4 linked regions of the Homo sapiens genome follow. The protein of the gene in region 3 purifies or fractionates together with the protein of the main gene of each other region. This does not show direct contact. Each region holds a gene or a part of one and is shown on either strand. Other genes may lie near its edges.

What was found. Proteins that work in one complex are often made in the same cells at the same time.
Region 1: the proteins of EZH1 (region 3) and MTF2 purify together in Homo sapiens (affinity purification with mass spectrometry; 3 studies listed by BioGRID and IntAct, with this or other methods). This does not show direct contact.
Region 2: the proteins of EZH1 (region 3) and SFSWAP purify together in Homo sapiens (affinity purification with mass spectrometry; one large-scale study listed by BioGRID and IntAct). This does not show direct contact.
Region 4: the proteins of EZH1 (region 3) and RP9 purify together in Homo sapiens (affinity purification with mass spectrometry; one large-scale study listed by BioGRID and IntAct). This does not show direct contact.

The regions. Positions count from the first base shown.
Region 1 is NC_000001.11:93,120,714-93,124,568, reverse strand, and holds part of MTF2 (metal-response element-binding transcription factor 2), read right to left. Parts: intron 1-3,855. UniProt on the Homo sapiens protein: Polycomb group (PcG) protein that specifically binds histone H3 trimethylated at 'Lys-36' (H3K36me3) and recruits the PRC2 complex, thus enhancing PRC2 H3K27me3 methylation activity.
Region 2 is NC_000012.12:131,763,021-131,766,875, forward strand, and holds part of SFSWAP (splicing factor, suppressor of white-apricot homolog), read left to right. Parts: intron 1-1,435; coding exon 1,436-1,666; intron 1,667-3,097; coding exon 3,098-3,288; intron 3,289-3,855.
Region 3 is NC_000017.11:42,716,435-42,721,921, forward strand, and holds part of EZH1 (histone-lysine N-methyltransferase EZH1), read right to left. Parts: intron 4,016-5,487; coding exon 3,839-4,015; intron 2,774-3,838; coding exon 2,671-2,773; intron 2,184-2,670; coding exon 2,020-2,183; intron 1,634-2,019; coding exon 1,542-1,633; intron 1-1,541.
Region 4 is NC_000007.14:33,096,565-33,099,473, forward strand, and holds part of RP9 (retinitis pigmentosa 9 protein), read right to left. Parts: intron 2,873-2,909; coding exon 2,743-2,872; intron 799-2,742; coding exon 707-798; intron 1-706. UniProt on the Homo sapiens protein: Is thought to be a target protein for the PIM1 kinase. May play some roles in B-cell proliferation in association with PIM1.

The DNA.
Region 1 (3,855 bases), on a different chromosome or scaffold from region 3:
ATTTCTTGAGTTTCATCTTTGCTTTTCTCCCTACCTCCCTCAGAAGTGAAGTAGCACTCCATAAATTATTCTGGTATCAACCTCAGGGTTTCTAAAATTTAAGACCACAGAAGAGTGGTTATTACAGAACTAGGATTTCAAATAACTTTAAGAATCAAACACAAATGACAATAAGCGATTACAAAAAGTACTAATATCTCATTTTAAACTCCCCAAAACAATCTGATACAACAGATGAGACTTCATTTTACATAAAAACCTTAAGAAAGTTTATCATGGTTTCAAATGTTAAGTATTTTTACTATCTCAAAGAAAATAATCCAAAACATAGTAGTTCCTCAAACAGCTACACTCAATCTATATGATAATCATTAGGTACCAAGCCAAAAGAAGTACAAAAACTACATAAGGAAACAATGTAATACTACCATTATCTTCTAAAATGATTCAAAAGTTTTATCTTCTCTTCATAACAATCCTATACCGTATTCAACTAAGAAAAAAATATGATACATGAATGTTACATTTTGGCTTTTCAGTATGACAGGATATTATCTCCAAAAGTGTAATATTTTTGAAACTTCTTTTTATTACTAAAAGAAGTCACAGCTTTGGATGATAATGATGTATTGATGTAGCTTCATCAATTATAACTATCTACCATTATGGTGGAGGGATGTTGATAATGGAGGAGGCAATGCATGTGTGGCAGAAGGGGACAACCTAAATCTGCTCTTAAAAAAAAAAAAAAAGTCTTTAAAATAAAAACAGTCACAGTGCTTCCTTTATTAAAAAAAGGGGGGGGGGACACAATACACGAAACAGAATACAACTGATTCAATGTAAGATTACAGCAAGTAATTACAAATGTAAATATGTATTTACTAGGTTTCTAAAATAAAAAATACCATTAAAGTTTAGCCAGCCTCATCATATGTAAAATTATAATTCAAAGTTCAGGGATAATAAATGTGGATAACTGCCTAGTTGTGCAATATATATTCCTACGCAAAATGCCATAAAAAATCTCAATCAACTTATATCATTACAAAATTTTTTCTCTGATCTGGTGGCAAGAGGAAGGAAACTCCACATTTTAGATAAACTAAAATCACAACCTTTGTTCTATTTTGTTTCATTTTTGAAGATAAATTTCTAGAGCAGGCGCTTTAGTCTATATTACGTATAACAAGAATTGCTGAGGCAGGAAGATAACTTGACCTCAGGAGTTCAAGGCTTCAGTGAGCTATGTATGACTGTACCATTGCACTCCAGCCTGAGCAAGGGTCTCTTAAAAAAAAAAAAAGAGAGAGAGAGACTCTCCTGTCCTGTCTCTTAAAAAAAAAAAAAAAAAAAAAGAAAGAGCTGATGTTCAAAATGACTAAAGTACTCCAAGGTACTCAATTATAAAATATAAACATTATATTTAGCATACACTACTTCCCATGTTTTGAAAATAATTAATGGCATTTTATAAGATTTGGAACAAGAATATAAACAAAAGTAAATTTTTGTTAACCTAAATTTGGATTAGTGACAAAATTCAATTTGTAATTCATTTTTAGTTTATCAAAAATTTTCTATTCAAATAATTTGGAATGACCCATTATTTATGTTACCTTTTTATTGATCACTACAAACATTTGAAAGTAATCTAAATGAAAAACACTGAATAAACATGATAAACTAGCATAAATTTTATCATCTCTTTATTATTAAAAACTCACCCTAAAATCCAATTATAATTACAGTACAAAAATATAAAATACAGAAAATTAGAAACCTTAACTTCAATCTGTCAGTTACCAAAGTCTGTGAATGAGATGTCTCATCTAAGAAGTCTGAATATTTTCTTATTTTAATCCACAGAAAGAACAGTAAGAAATTATTAGTCTCTTGTTTTAGTAATAAATTTGATGGTCAAAAAGTGGAAATAATTTGCAAAACTTTTTCTTTTTTTCTAAGACATTACCTCATAGGCTACAGAAATAAAAACATGTATTATTACTGAAGCAAATTTTTTCTAGTATGTTTCAGAAGTTCAGTTGGAGCTGGGACACCCAAAATTCATAAACTGAACTCTTTTCTTGAAAAATATACTAAATGTGATTTTCATTTTCTTATATTTCCAGCCTCTCAAATAAAATCTAAACACTAAAATTTAAATTTTAATTAAAAAGGACAGCATTTGAAATAAACACAACTTGAGTTTTTATATTATATATACCCAATGTCTACATCAAGTTACTACTGCAGAATTTCATCATGTAATGCAGACAATGTACTAACAGGTATACATATGTATCTGCATATGAAGTGCTAAAAGAATAATGGCTAGAAAGAATTTTTAAACAAATGTATTATAGTATTAAATATTAAGATAATTATAAAAACCACTATAGCCACTTCTAATGCCTTACCCCTTACTTTCTGATTACTAATCAGTTTATTAAAATTTATCAAATGTGGCCATGCCCAGTGGCTCATGCCTGTAATCTCAGCACTTTGGGAGGCCAAGGTGGGCGGATCACTTAAGGTCAGGAGTTCAAGACCAGCCTGGCCAACATGGCAAAACTCCATCTCTACTAAAAATACAAAAATTAGCTGGGTATGGTGGCAGGTGCCTGTAATCCCAGCTACTTAGGAGGCTAAGGCAGGAGAATGGCTTGAGCCTGGGAGGCGGAGGTTGCGGTGAGCTGAGATCACGCCATTGCACTCCAGCCTGGGTGACAGAGCAAGACTCCGTCTCCAAAAAAAAAAAAAAAAAAAAAAAAAATCAAATGTACACATCACTCACTTTCTCTCAGACTTCATCTAAAAAAAAAGTATTTAACAGAAAACTTAACAAAAATTTGTATGATAATCCAATATCTAACATTCAAAACTCAAATGATGAATTCAAAAATTCATCAATTGAATTTCAATAATATCCTAGATTTTAAAACTACAAACTAAATCATGCATTATGTTCTCCCTGATATCCCATAAACCCCCAAAAAGCCCTTTGATATCCTATTTGATATGAAATAGGATGTCCTTCGTGTCTCAAAGCTACAAATCAAGAAATTCTTCCTAAACTTCAAATCAGTGTGCAAAATTTTTACCTAAAAAAAAGCATGACTAAGATATACATATCAAATTCCATATTATAAAACAAATTTTTTAGTTTTAACTAAAAGTAGTTAATATATGTACTTTAGTAATTCTAAATAAAAGCTAAAAATAAGGTCCCTAACTATTAAACTTATTCTAGTTACTTTTCTCTTTCTGCTATTCATTAGTTTCAAAATTTTCTTTAATGAACACACATTACTTTTAAATTCATTTAAAAAAAGACTGTAAACCAGCATAGGTAGTTACACTTCAAAAATGAGAAGCAAAATGAGATGTCAGAATGAGAGGGGATAATTTTCTATTCAGGCAGCTTCACTCTACAACTCATTTTTCTAACAATATTATTAGATCCCACCATTCCTACAAGTCAGAAATATATAAAGGAGTACCAACAAGAGAGGAAGGAAGAATGTTGGTTATATCTCTAAGTTTATAGAAAACTTAGAAGAAAAGGAGGTTGAACTACAAGTAAGATACCCAATACTAAAGATTTCTCCCTCCCTTCTATCTTTAACTACAATGACTTTCACTTCAGAAAATGAAAGAATCAAATAATATACCTCCTCCTTCTACAAATTTCCAGAGTCAACAGGCAACAAACACACAGGAGGATGAGAAGGCTGGTCCTGATATCCATACCAAACTTATTTGTCCCCAGAACTAAAAATAAAATTCTATTTTAGTTGTCTGACTTATACATGTGTCTCAGTTGTTTTTTGAAAAACAAAACAAAACAAAAAA
Region 2 (3,855 bases), on a different chromosome or scaffold from region 3:
TTTTGATGTTATAAAATACTGCTGTCCCGGTATCAGTATCTTTGTGTGTGCCCTGTCCCCTGAGGCAGTTGTTGATGAAAAGTGGTTATATTTCAGAGGGTCTGGGCTATCACATGCTTAACTGTCTACTTCACATCACACGCGGGTTTGGAGCCATAAAATGCTAAAGCGGAAGGACCTCCGCCAGGGGCCAGCCAGGTAGCCCACCCTGTGCTACAGAGGTGGCATCACAAACATAAGTTGCAGCCCTTCCAGAAGCGGCCTTGTTTACCCAGAACCCACTTCCCTCTCAGTCACCTGGTTTGCGGTGCACTTAGCATCCCCTTCATTGTGGGTGCCTTGAATATTCTTCATAAATAACAACTGATGGTTTTTTAAAATACTGTATCTTATTGCAACCAGTTAGCTCTTGTCAAGAGCCATTTATCACAGCATCTGAAAGAGAAAGGGACTCTGTGTTCATTGAGTGGTGGGGCGGGAAAGATGATTTTTTCTTTAGGGCCTCCATATTTCCCTTAAATTTAAGCCTTCTGGATATTCTAAGAGGAGGGATTGCTTCTAAACTTCTGTCACGCTGGGTTTGACATTTTCTTACAGGTGTGGAAAATGGTCTAACATAATGCCTGTCACAAAGTAGGTAAAAATGTTTGCTGAATAAAGGCATGGATTCTGTAATTTTTGCTTTGTAAGAAAAGGCTATTTTTTATCATGGGGAATTTTTTAAAGAGACCTGTTTATAGTGGAGTCACATCATATGCCTCCTGAAGCAAATTTAGATATATGCTGAGCCATGAATTTTTTTTTTTTTTTTTAAAGAAAAATGAGGCCGGGCACAGTGGCTCACGTCTATAATCCCAGCACTTTGGGAGGCCGAGGCAGGCGGATCACGAGGTCAGGAGATCAAGACCATCCTGGCTAACATGGTGAAACCCCATCTCTACTAAAAATAGAAAAATTTAGCCAGGCATGGCAGCGGGCGCCTGTACTCCCAGCTACTCAGGAGGCTGAGGCAGGAGAATCGCTTGAACCTAGGAGGCAGAGGTTGCAGTGAGCCGAGATCGTGCCACTGCACTCCAGCCTGGGCGACAGAGCGAGACTCCATCTCAAAAAGAAAAGAAAAGAAAAATGACAAGAATTGGCCATTTAAAATTGCAGGTGACTGCCCTGGCATCAGCGAGTGTGCCCTTGCCATGAAGTCCCCAGTCAGTGCGGTTCTCACAGCATGGTTCAGGGGCTCACCCCAGCCCCACGCCATGCAGTGCACATCTGCACAGGTCTGCTCTGACGGCACGGCGTCCCCCACCGTAGACCCTGCATATGATGTGGCTCCATGCTAGTCATCCCCTTCCCAGCAGCCGATGCTCAGGTGGGTAGCAGGGCCTGCAAAGATTTCCACTCTGTAACATGTATCATAATTCTCACCTTTCCTCAATAGCTTCCTTTGCTCCAATAAGCTTTGCAATCAAGGCCAAAGAAAATGATCTGCTTCCCCTGGAAAAAAATCGTGTTAAGCTAGATGATGACAGTGATGATGATGAAGAAAGCAAAGAAGGCCAAGAAAGTTCTAGTAGTGCTGCAAACACTAACCCAGCAGTTGCCCCACCCTGTGTAGTTGTTGAGGAGAAGAAGCCTCAACTTACCCAGGAGGAGCTAGAAGCAAAGCAAGGTTTGTTGATAGCTTTTAAACTTCTTGAAAGAAAGGAAATACACAAATATAAGATTTATCTGCTAAGCCAAAAAATCTCGAGGCTGCCAACTAGAATCTGAAGCCTTTGGAAATCGACCTATTTGGGAGTTGTGTAACATGTCTGAGGTTTTGAAACGTTCTCTTTTAGAGGAATGAGCTCTGCTCTTCACTGAGCCTCAAATGCAGTGCCGCTGGCAGTTTGTTTTCGAAGAAACTGAGTTGGCCGTCTTAGCTCTAATGCGCCACAGTGGAATGCATTAATGGCAGCTCACTTTGCACTTGGCTGGCAGCCCCAGGGTAAAAGGCTCAGCCTGTCTTCCCAGCTCAGGAACCAAACTAGGAGATGCCCTCTTGTGAGGCTGCCTACCCACAGAACCATTGGGCCCTTGAAGGTGGTGTGTCCCCAGCTGGTTTTCCGGCTGCGGCTCATCTTCATGGGCCGCAGTGTGGCCACCACACCCACCCCAACACTGCTGGCAGCATGGGGACAGCATGTAGTCTTCCCATCCCGACTCCAGAATAAATTCTGCTCTGCATTAAAGCAGTCAAATAATGGTTGCTGCATTGTGGTTGTTATCTATTCTAACTGATTTTCTTAAATTGCTTTTCCTGTATACACACATTCAGATCAAGCAACATTTGAAAGAGGCCAATTTTCAGGCCAGGCGCGGTAGCTCATGCCTGTAATCCCAGCACTTTGGGAGGCTAAGGTGGGTGGATCACCTGAGGTCAGAAGTTAGAAACCAGCCTGGCCAACATGGTGAGACCCCATCTCTACTGAAAAAACAAAATTAGCCGGGCGTGGTGGCACACGCCTGTAATCCCAGCTACTTGGGAGGCTGAGGCAGGAGAATCGCTTGAACCCGGGAGGCAGAGGTTGCAGTGAGCTGAGATCACGCCATTGCACTACAGCCTGGGCAACAAGAGCAAAAACTCCGTCTCAAAGAAAAAAAAAAAAAGCCATTTTTCAACCACAATCCACCATCAAGAACTTCCATTGTGCTGTGGTGTTCTCCCTAAGCAAACTTGTACTCATGCCTGTACATCTGAATCTGTCCTTCCTGTGTGTAAACTAACCAACTGTCGGATCATTTGGAATAAAACACTTATAGAGTATTCATTGCCTGGTGTGAATATTTTGGATATATGCTGAGAGCCACTCTGAGGTTTTCATTATTCCAGCTTTCGTTAGTGTAGAGTCTCACCAACCTTCTAACTCTGAAAGTAAAATGTCCAAAAAAGGGCACGTTATAAACTAATTCTCTCAAAATTTGATTTGTCCAATGTATGTACCTATTCAGAAACTTTAACTAACTGCATTGTATGACACTTTTGCAACCTGTGAAAATTAAGATCAGATAAAATACTGTTTGCTCTAAACTTCTCTTTTTTCTTTGTTTATTCCTTAAGCAAAGCAAAAGCTGGAAGATCGCCTCGCAGCTGCTGCCCGGGAAAAGCTGGCCCAGGCGTCTAAGGAGTCAAAAGAGAAACAGCTTCAAGCAGAACGTAAAAGGAAAGCGGCGTTATTTTTACAGACCCTCAAAAATCCTCTGCCGGAAGCAGAAGCTGGGAAAATTGAGGAGAGTCCTTTCAGTGTCGAGGTATAGTAAAATCCCACATTGGTATCTGCGGGGCTGTGTGATACATAGAGGCAGGGAGGATGTGTCTCCCTCCAGCTGCCCTAGTCTCTGGCCTGAGTGAGGGATATGAGCTCCCAGCTCTTCCTCCCGACATGGTTGAGTGGCTTTTACTCTATAGCAGTGAATCTAAGAGTTTGCCAGCAGTCTCCCCCGTCAGTGCACAGTCACGCCAGCAGCAAACACTGCCCGCGATTTCAGGGGAGCCTCTGCTTCACGGCTGCCCTTATGGGGCTGGCAGGAGGGCTTGGGGAGTGCCTCCCATGGGTCCTGCTGGGGAAATGTGGTGGACACACTTCACTGAAGCCCCGCCTCCGCAGCAGCACCAGTATTGCGCTCACACGTGGGGCAGAAATCCTTTTGCCACGGTCTGTATCAATGTCAGCACTTTAATTAAAGAGAAAAAGGAAGAGGGAGTTAAGAGAACAGACTCCAGGAGTACATGGCTCCTTCCTCAGTGGTGTGAGCAGGAATAGGGCCTTACATGGGGGTCATCACGTGGCTGCCTTACAAGTCTCCCTGCCAAGGAGG
Region 3 (5,487 bases):
AGTAAACAGTTGGGGGAAAATAGTCCAGCATTATATTTAATATGCACTCAAACCTAAAACGCAATAAAAGAAAAATTGTGCATACATTATCTCTGTAAGTTAAACATGCATACATTTCAGGCATTGGCAGCATCTTCGTAATACATGTACAGGGTATCAAGGTGACTCCTGTGAGAAGGGCAATGACCTTTTGACTTATATAAATGCTGGTATGTTGACATAACATGGCATATATATTTTTTTAAGGATGAAGTAATTTCATTTTATTATTATTTTTTTTTTGAGATGGAGTCTCACTATCTCACCCAGGCTGGAGTACAGTGGCGTGATCTCGGCTCACTGCAGCCTCCACCTCCTGGGTTCAAGCAATTCTCCTGTCTCAGCCTCCTGAGTAGCTGGGATTACAGGCGTGCGCCACCACACCTGGTTAATTTTGTATTTTCAGTAGAGACAGGGTTTTTCCATGTTGACCAGGCTGGTCTCAAACTCCTGACCTCAGGTGATCCACCTCCCTCAGCCTCCCAAAGTGCTGGGATTATAGGTGTGCACTACGACGCCTGGCTGAAAAACATGGAGTAATTTTAAAAGCATGATCTGTGGAGTTAGACCCTGACTTGAATTTCATCGCTGCCATACCGCTGACTTATCAACAAACTTTAGGCAAAATATATAACTTTTGTAATCCAGTTTCCTCTACCTCATGACACTGTTATAGGATGAAAATAAGACAAGGTATGTTAAGGGTCTACTATGATACTTGGCACATAGGAAGGAGTCAATACACATTAGGAAAAAATAAACCCAATAACGTCTATTCTTTTGCTTTTACAGTACGGCCCATTTTCCACATGTGTGCCCAACAGCATTCTCTACCATCTTTCCATCTATTATCCCACTAAAGATGGTTCCAAAAGCACTTGGCTGGTTGTATAATATAATTTTAATAGGTGGCAGAAATTTTATCAAGGTATTTTATTCATCGCCTAGGCTCATCCTATTGTGTAAAAAGCCCAACTGTGTCTTTGGCAAGTCCAGTTGATCTATTTCCTTCTAGCTCTCAATATATGGCTTCCCCACAGGTATGCCAGACCATTTATGCTGCTTCTTAAGGTCTGTCCATCAGGGAACGGTCCATCTGGTTGATCACAACAAGACATCAGCATCATCACGTGCTATTCGTCTCATAGTTATATGCATTTATAACAAGATAGCAAAGAAACTAGAGTGTGTACCCACCCCCCCAGCATACACTTTGCTCCAATTCTAACAATACAGTTTTAGGCTCTGAAATCTAAGCAGATGATATTTAGAGCAGGCAAGCCTTTAATGATCTTCGAATCTGCACTCCATCAGACTAACTTTATAGTGCTACCATGTCTGGGGAGTTCCTTAAGAGCGGTCCCACAGTAACTGGGGAGCTCCTTAAGAGCAAAAGCCATGTTTTATTTGTGCTATATGACCCCCAGAGTGCTGTGTACTGGCTCACGTGGCTTGTGTTCCCAGAATGAAGTTAATAATGCCAGAACAGCTTAAGAACATACCAGCAAAAGGAAGCAGTCTGTGCCACATGGTTCTGGTTCAATCTTGATTTCTTTATTCTTGCGTTTATATACATTAGGGGTGGCATGAAAAGCTGGAAAACAAAAACTGTCTTGTTGCCAGTGGTCTATCCACTTGACAAGATGGGGAGAAACAAAAGTGAATTAGAGAGCTATTGTAGGAGTTAGAATTCGATATAAACGGCTACCATCAGGGTGCACAAAATTCAGTCATTTCTGACATCAACACAATGCTTTCAAAGCTAAGAGGTACTGAGGGACAGATAAGTTGCTAGTTAGTCTGTCCCTATCATGCAAAGCATGTTGCACTATAATTGAGCAAGGGAAAATAGAACTGGCCCTTTGTAAAACGTTAGAACAGAAGCCAGGAACTCTATACGAGAAACCAGAACAAAGAGAAGGAAATGGTGGCTGGGGATGGAAGAGAGGAGAGCATTTCAAACAGAGTAGCCCCACTCACGGTGAAGGAAGCAGTCGTATTTAAAGCAGCGCCGGCAAAAAAGTGTGTGGAAGGAGTGCAGAGATTGCTCCCGCTGCACAGACTTGGCATTGGGGCCATCGATGTTGGGTGTGCACTGAGGGGGAAGTGCATTGGGGTCTGACATCTCTGTTAGTTCTCGATACCTATTTAAGAAAAGAGAGATAAGAGTTCCTCCGAGGAACTGCCTCCACTGAGGAAATACAGATTGGGTACTGACAGTAGCTCACCTACGGTCTGCCAAGGGAGGATGGGTGTTTTTTATAGGTCTGGTTGATAAGAGAATGGTAGATAACTAGAGTGGGTCCACCATTGTAATTATGCTGGGTTGGGCAAATGTTGGAAAGTAAGGGGAGGGAAGGATTTGTTAAGATGGTGCTGGAGTTAACTCTCCAGAAAAATGGCAGAGTAAATGTTCTCTGCCCAGACTCACTCAAAAGCCAGTATACGATGACCCTTAATATAGTAAGGGGGGCATTTAGAGGTAATTGAGTAAGCAAGAAATAATCAAATTGCGGGCAAATCATAATGCCCTTACCATAAACAAAGCTTTTTACTAACCAAAAATTAGGAGGGAATAAAGGTTTTGTCCGAGCACTCTGTATATGGCCTAAGTGGGACAGCTTTCCCTACCTCTCCTTCATGTCATCTGGGACACCATTCTCAGGGAACATTGAGGCAATTGCACTGAAGATCATGTCATTTGGGAACTGTTTCTTGGAACTCTTTTTGTTGCCTGAATTGGAAATGATAAAAAGCTCCTGAGTGCGATTATCAGAACACGTAAACAAATCTGTGTGATCTTTTTTCCTTTTGTCATAGCATTTTGATTACAGCTGCTTTGTTAACCTAACCACTGATTGTTTGGAGATATATAAACATCAGTGCTATCTGGACTTATCTGATATATGCTACCAGTAAATAAGGAAGTTAGAGTAGTCTACATATTAACAACAAAATCCACAGTCCCAATTAGAATCTGGATGTGAGGTGGCTCACGCCTGTAATCCCAGTCAGTACTTTGAGAGGCCGAGGGGAGCGGATCACTTGAGGCCAGGAGTTTGAGACCAGCCTGGCCAACATGGTAAAACCCCAACTCTACTAAAAATACAAAACTTAGCTGGGCATGGTGGTGCATGCCTATAGTCCCAGCTACTTAGAAGGCTGACACACAAGAATCACTTGAACCAGGGAGGTGGAGGTTGCAGTGAGCCGAGATTGTGCCACTGCACTCCACCTTGGGTAACAGAGCAAGACTGTGTCTCAAAAAAATAATAAATAATAGATTTTAAAAATAAAAATAAGAATTTGGAGGTGAAAAGAGTGTTCATAGAGAGGCCTGAACATAGAAGAATCCTATCATGAAGTGGATGCTGAAGAACTACACTGATACTATAATTATGATACAATAAAAGAGAATACACTATGTCCCTGGACATATAGTATAATTAAACTATTAAATTTTAAATTAAACATTAGTGACATGGAAAAGTACTCATAAGATTAAATAAAAAGGGATATAAAATTTGATATATACATATATATAAATTGGCATGATCCCAATTTCACATGAGACATATAATTAGAAATGAATAGCAATGATTATTCTATCAGTTCTTCTACTTTCTTCTTCACCCAAGTCACAGCTATCTGAAGCTATCACTTAATGATCATGTTCTCCTTTTAAGTGAACCAACAAGAAGCACCAACAGCCTTTAATAGGCAACAAATCTTTCCAGTTCTTCCTTCTTCCCTATCCCTGTCACTTTAAAAAAGGAATAAGGGAGCCAGTGCTACGTACCTTCAATAGCATGTCGCTTTCTCTTTCTTGTTACTGGCAGATCTTCTTTGCTGTCATCCTGCTTTCCATCTGAGGTGTCATTGTGCCCTTCCTCCTCCTCATCTGAGTACTGATTCAGGGCATCGACCAACTCCAGAAAAACAGCATCACTAATCAGAACGGATCCAGGGATCATCTCTGAAACATGAGGATTCGAAAGATGAGCAGTGGTCACTTCACATTCCATTAGTCCTCCTAGGCAGGTTTTCTTGTACTCACTCCAGAGGCCCAGATATGTCACATGTGTACATTTTTACATGGGAGATCAGGAAATTACAATCATTTGATTGGCTCCTACACATGCAGTGGGCAGCTGGCTAGAGTAGGAATACAGCTATAGGCTTTATTTATTTTTATTATTTTTTTTAGACGGAGTTTCGCCTTATTGCCCAGGCTGGAGTGCAATGGCGCGATCTTGGCTCACCGCAACCTCCACCTCCCAGGTTCAAGTGATTCTCCTGCCTCAGCCTCCCGAGTAGCTGAGATTACGCATGTGCCACCACCCTGGCTAATTTTGTATTTTAGTAGAGACTGGGTTTCTCCATGTCAGGCTGGTCGTGAACTCCAGACCTCAGGTGATCCGCCCGCCTCGGCCTACCAAAATGCTGGGATTACAGGTGTGACCCACCGTGCCCAGCCATAGGCTTTATTCTTACTGAAGAACTTCACTTCCTCAGTCACAAGTCAACTCTGAATTTCTGGTTCAAAATCTCATGAAAGTGTTCAAACAATCTCCAAGTAGGGCAGAGAAAAATAATAAAATGAAAATTCTCTTGGCTTTGCTGCTGATGGGTCAGTAATGACGTCTCTAAATCAAAAGACAGCAATTTTTCCTAAAATTGTACTTTATGGAGATGTACTACAATTTAGGAGGTCTTTGAACACTAGGAGGCACTGTGGACAAATAATGTAGTTCAACAGCATCACAACAGTGCCCACAATTGTCAAAAGAGCAGGTGGGGCTGTTGGTTTATGAAGTGATGGAGAGCCTCTCCTCTTTCCATTTCTTACACACGGACAGACTTTTCTAGAATTATGACTAAATCCAAACAATTGGCTTTTAGGAAATTCAGATTATTAAAACCAACTTCTGGGAGATTCAGGGGATGCCTGGATCAAAGAAGTATGACAGAGAGCCTCATTGCCATTCTCAGAGAAAGAGAAATAAAGAACAAAATGGTCTTGGATGTCCTTATGGAAAACTCCTAAGCCCTAAGATTAAACTTATTTGTACAATAAACTTTCTCTCCAGCCACTGATTACTACATAATCCTTTTATGTCCCAACTCCTTTTAAAATTTAACTAGGATACTTTAAATAATTTTTATTTCTGTTTCTGCTGCTTGAATCAGAAATAACTAGGGTAATAAAAAAAAAAAAGAAAGAAAGAAAAAAAGAAATAACTAGGGTATTTTGGGCCAGGCATGTTGGCTCACTCTTGTAATCCCAGAGCTTTGGGAGGCCAACGTGGGAGGATTGCTTGAGGCCAGGAGTTTAAGACCAGCCTGGGCAACGTGGTGAGACTCCATCTCTACAAAAAATTTTAAAAATAAGCCAGGGCCGGGCACGGTGGCTCACGCCTGTAATCCCAGCACTTTGGGAGGCTGAGG
Region 4 (2,909 bases), on a different chromosome or scaffold from region 3:
AGAGAAGGTTAAGGTTTGGTTAGGCTTCATGGATCACAAGTTAAATACAATGAAATGCCTATGTTATGAAAACCAGTTTATTTTTTTTTTTACTGTTTGATGTAGCTGCATGTTCAACATGTTCTAGGTCACATCACTGAAAACTCATTAAGGCTAAAAAATGGATTTTCCAATTAGAAAAATACAGGAAATGGCTACTCTCAGCACACTGTCTTTGGGGTAGCCCTGCTCTGCAGGAGCAATCACAGAGCTATAACACTGCCACCTCAAAAACAAAGAAAAATACAGGGAATAACTGTCATCTAAAGAAAAAATATACGGACACTTTAATCTTACAGTTTAAAGACATGTACTCTTTAAAGACCGGGAAATTAAATCCCTGATTTCAGTCATGAAACATGACTTTTTTACACAGTAAATTTTAAAAAGTGCGGTTGAATAGATAACAATGTCTGTTTCAGAAAAAAAATCACTGTTCCAAGTTACAAACAAAGATCACTTTAATAAGAATTCCTTTTTTTTGTAAAAGAGCTAATTTGTCATACAAATGTAATTTAATAAGCATGTAGTTAACAGCACACACTTTGGTCAAAGGGCTTCTGGGAATGTATTTTATGTGACCATTCAAGTTCACTGGTGACTTTCTGCTTCACTGATTTTCACTATCTCTGATAAATGTAAATTGACACTCTTGGACTTTACTTACCACTCTGAACTGCTCTAACTTTTGGTTGCCTTTGATAAAGAAAGGGCATTCTTTGTCACCCGTTCGGTGACCATAGCGTTTGCAACGCCAACCTAAAAACGAAAAGAGAAATATTTCTGTAAGATAACAGTTTCACCTACTCAAGATAAAGAATCAGCAGAATATATTCAAGTTTTTCTTCATTAAACTCTAATTCTAAAACAAAATATAATTATGGACAAGCCATGTAAGATCCCAGAAACAGAGGTAAACTAATTGCTTCCCCAAGCATCCTTTAGTCTTATACCTTTAGGAATAATATTCTATCACCAAGTATTTATGAAGCAATCCAATGGAGAATTACTTCAAAAGGTGAATTTTTTTTTTTGAGATGGAGTCCTGCTCTGTCGCTCAGGCTGGAGTGCAGTGGCGTGATCTCAGCTCACTGCAACCTCTGCCTCCTGGGTTCAAGATATTCTTCTATTTCAGCCTCCTGGGTAGCTGGGATTACAGGTGCGTACCACCACACCCAGCTAATTTTTGTATTTTTAGCAGAGATGGGGTTTTGCCATGTTGCCCAGGCTGGTCTTCAACTCCTGACCTCAGGTGATCCGCCCGCCTCAGCCTCCCAAAGTGCTGGGATTACAGGCGTGAGCCACCACGCCCGGCCCAAAAGGTACATTTTTTTTAAAGTGTGTTTCAGTATATTTTTCAGAGTAAATGTTTTCATAAAGTATCTCTGCTTCTCATTTACTATTTTAGACACTATAAAAGCTTCTTTCTCAGGTTGAGTCTGTTCAAAACTCTCACTTTTAAGTAAATAAAATCACAAGTTCTCTTAGAATATTAATGGTGGCTGGGCACAGTGGCTCCTACCTGTAATCCTAGCACTTTGGGAGGCAGAGGCGGGTAGATCGCTTGAGGCCAGGAGTTCGAGACTAGCTTAGGCAACATGGTGAAACCCTATCTCTACAAAAGTACAAAAAAATTAGCTAAGCCTGGTGGCGCATGCCTGTAGTCCCAGCTATCTCAGAGGCTGATGTGAGATCACCTGATTCTGGGAGGTTGAGGCTGCAGTAAGTTGTGATCACACCACTGCACTCCAGCCCGGGTGACAGAGTGAGACCCTGTTTTCCTGACCCTGGTAGAAGGTTGTTTAATGTGTGGAAAAGGTAAAACAGAGGGTCTCTGGCCAGGGAGACCAGGGAGACATCAGGTAGGTCTGAAGGAAGCTGCTGCAATAGCCACAAAGGGTCACACGAATGAATGAAAAGCAGATGGACACATTTCCAGACTCCCTCCACTCGGCTCCCAGAACACTCATAGTATGGCTTTCCCTCCACGTGGGAGCCTTCTCTGGGAAAATATAACCCACCCAAAGAAGAAAAACCGATAGATACTGAACTCTGAGGCACGTTGTCTTTGCTTTTAACAAATAATCAAGGCAATGAAGCATTCCCATCAAAATTCTCAAGGAAACTGATTTTTAAATTAGAATTCAATATCCTGGTAGTTAAAAATCTGTTAAAGACGATTCCAGAAAAGTAAAGGTCTTAACATTTTTATCTTCTATAAACCCATTTTGAAGGTAACAGCCATAGGATTTGTTACACCATAAGGAGAGAATATGATAATAAAGAAGACTCAAGACACAGGAAAATGGGTGATCCAACACGGGAGAGAGGCTAAGGGGACCTGCAGAAAGATGGTGTCTTAGTCAGCTCGGGCTGACATAACAAAATGCCGTATTCTGGGTGGCCTAAACAACAGAAACTGGTTTTCTCATTCATTCTGTAGGTTGGAAATCTGAGATCAGGGTCCCAGCAAGGTGGGTTTGTGGTGAGAGCTTTCTTCCTGGCTTAAGATGACAGCCCTCTTTCTTCTTCACATGGCACGGTGGTGGGGGGTGGGGTGGATGCTTCCTTATCTAGAAGATGGAGAACGTGCCTTGGCTGTAAGAGGGCTGTGATGAGAACAAGTTAAATAAAAGAAGTAAACACTCTTTGTAAATTGAGGCATGTAAGTTGCATGGATTAGGGAAACTCTCCCACACTCACACTGCATAACTTTGACTTCTTTCCCCAGTGGCATCCAAAGTCCTTTAGTTGGTGCATGAGCCAGAAATTCCCTGGCGTGTTCATTGCCTGGTACATCTGGTATGCAATCTTCTGGCTTAGTCTCATCTTCCTAAAAAAGGGAACAGGTATAAACAGCATGGCAAGAG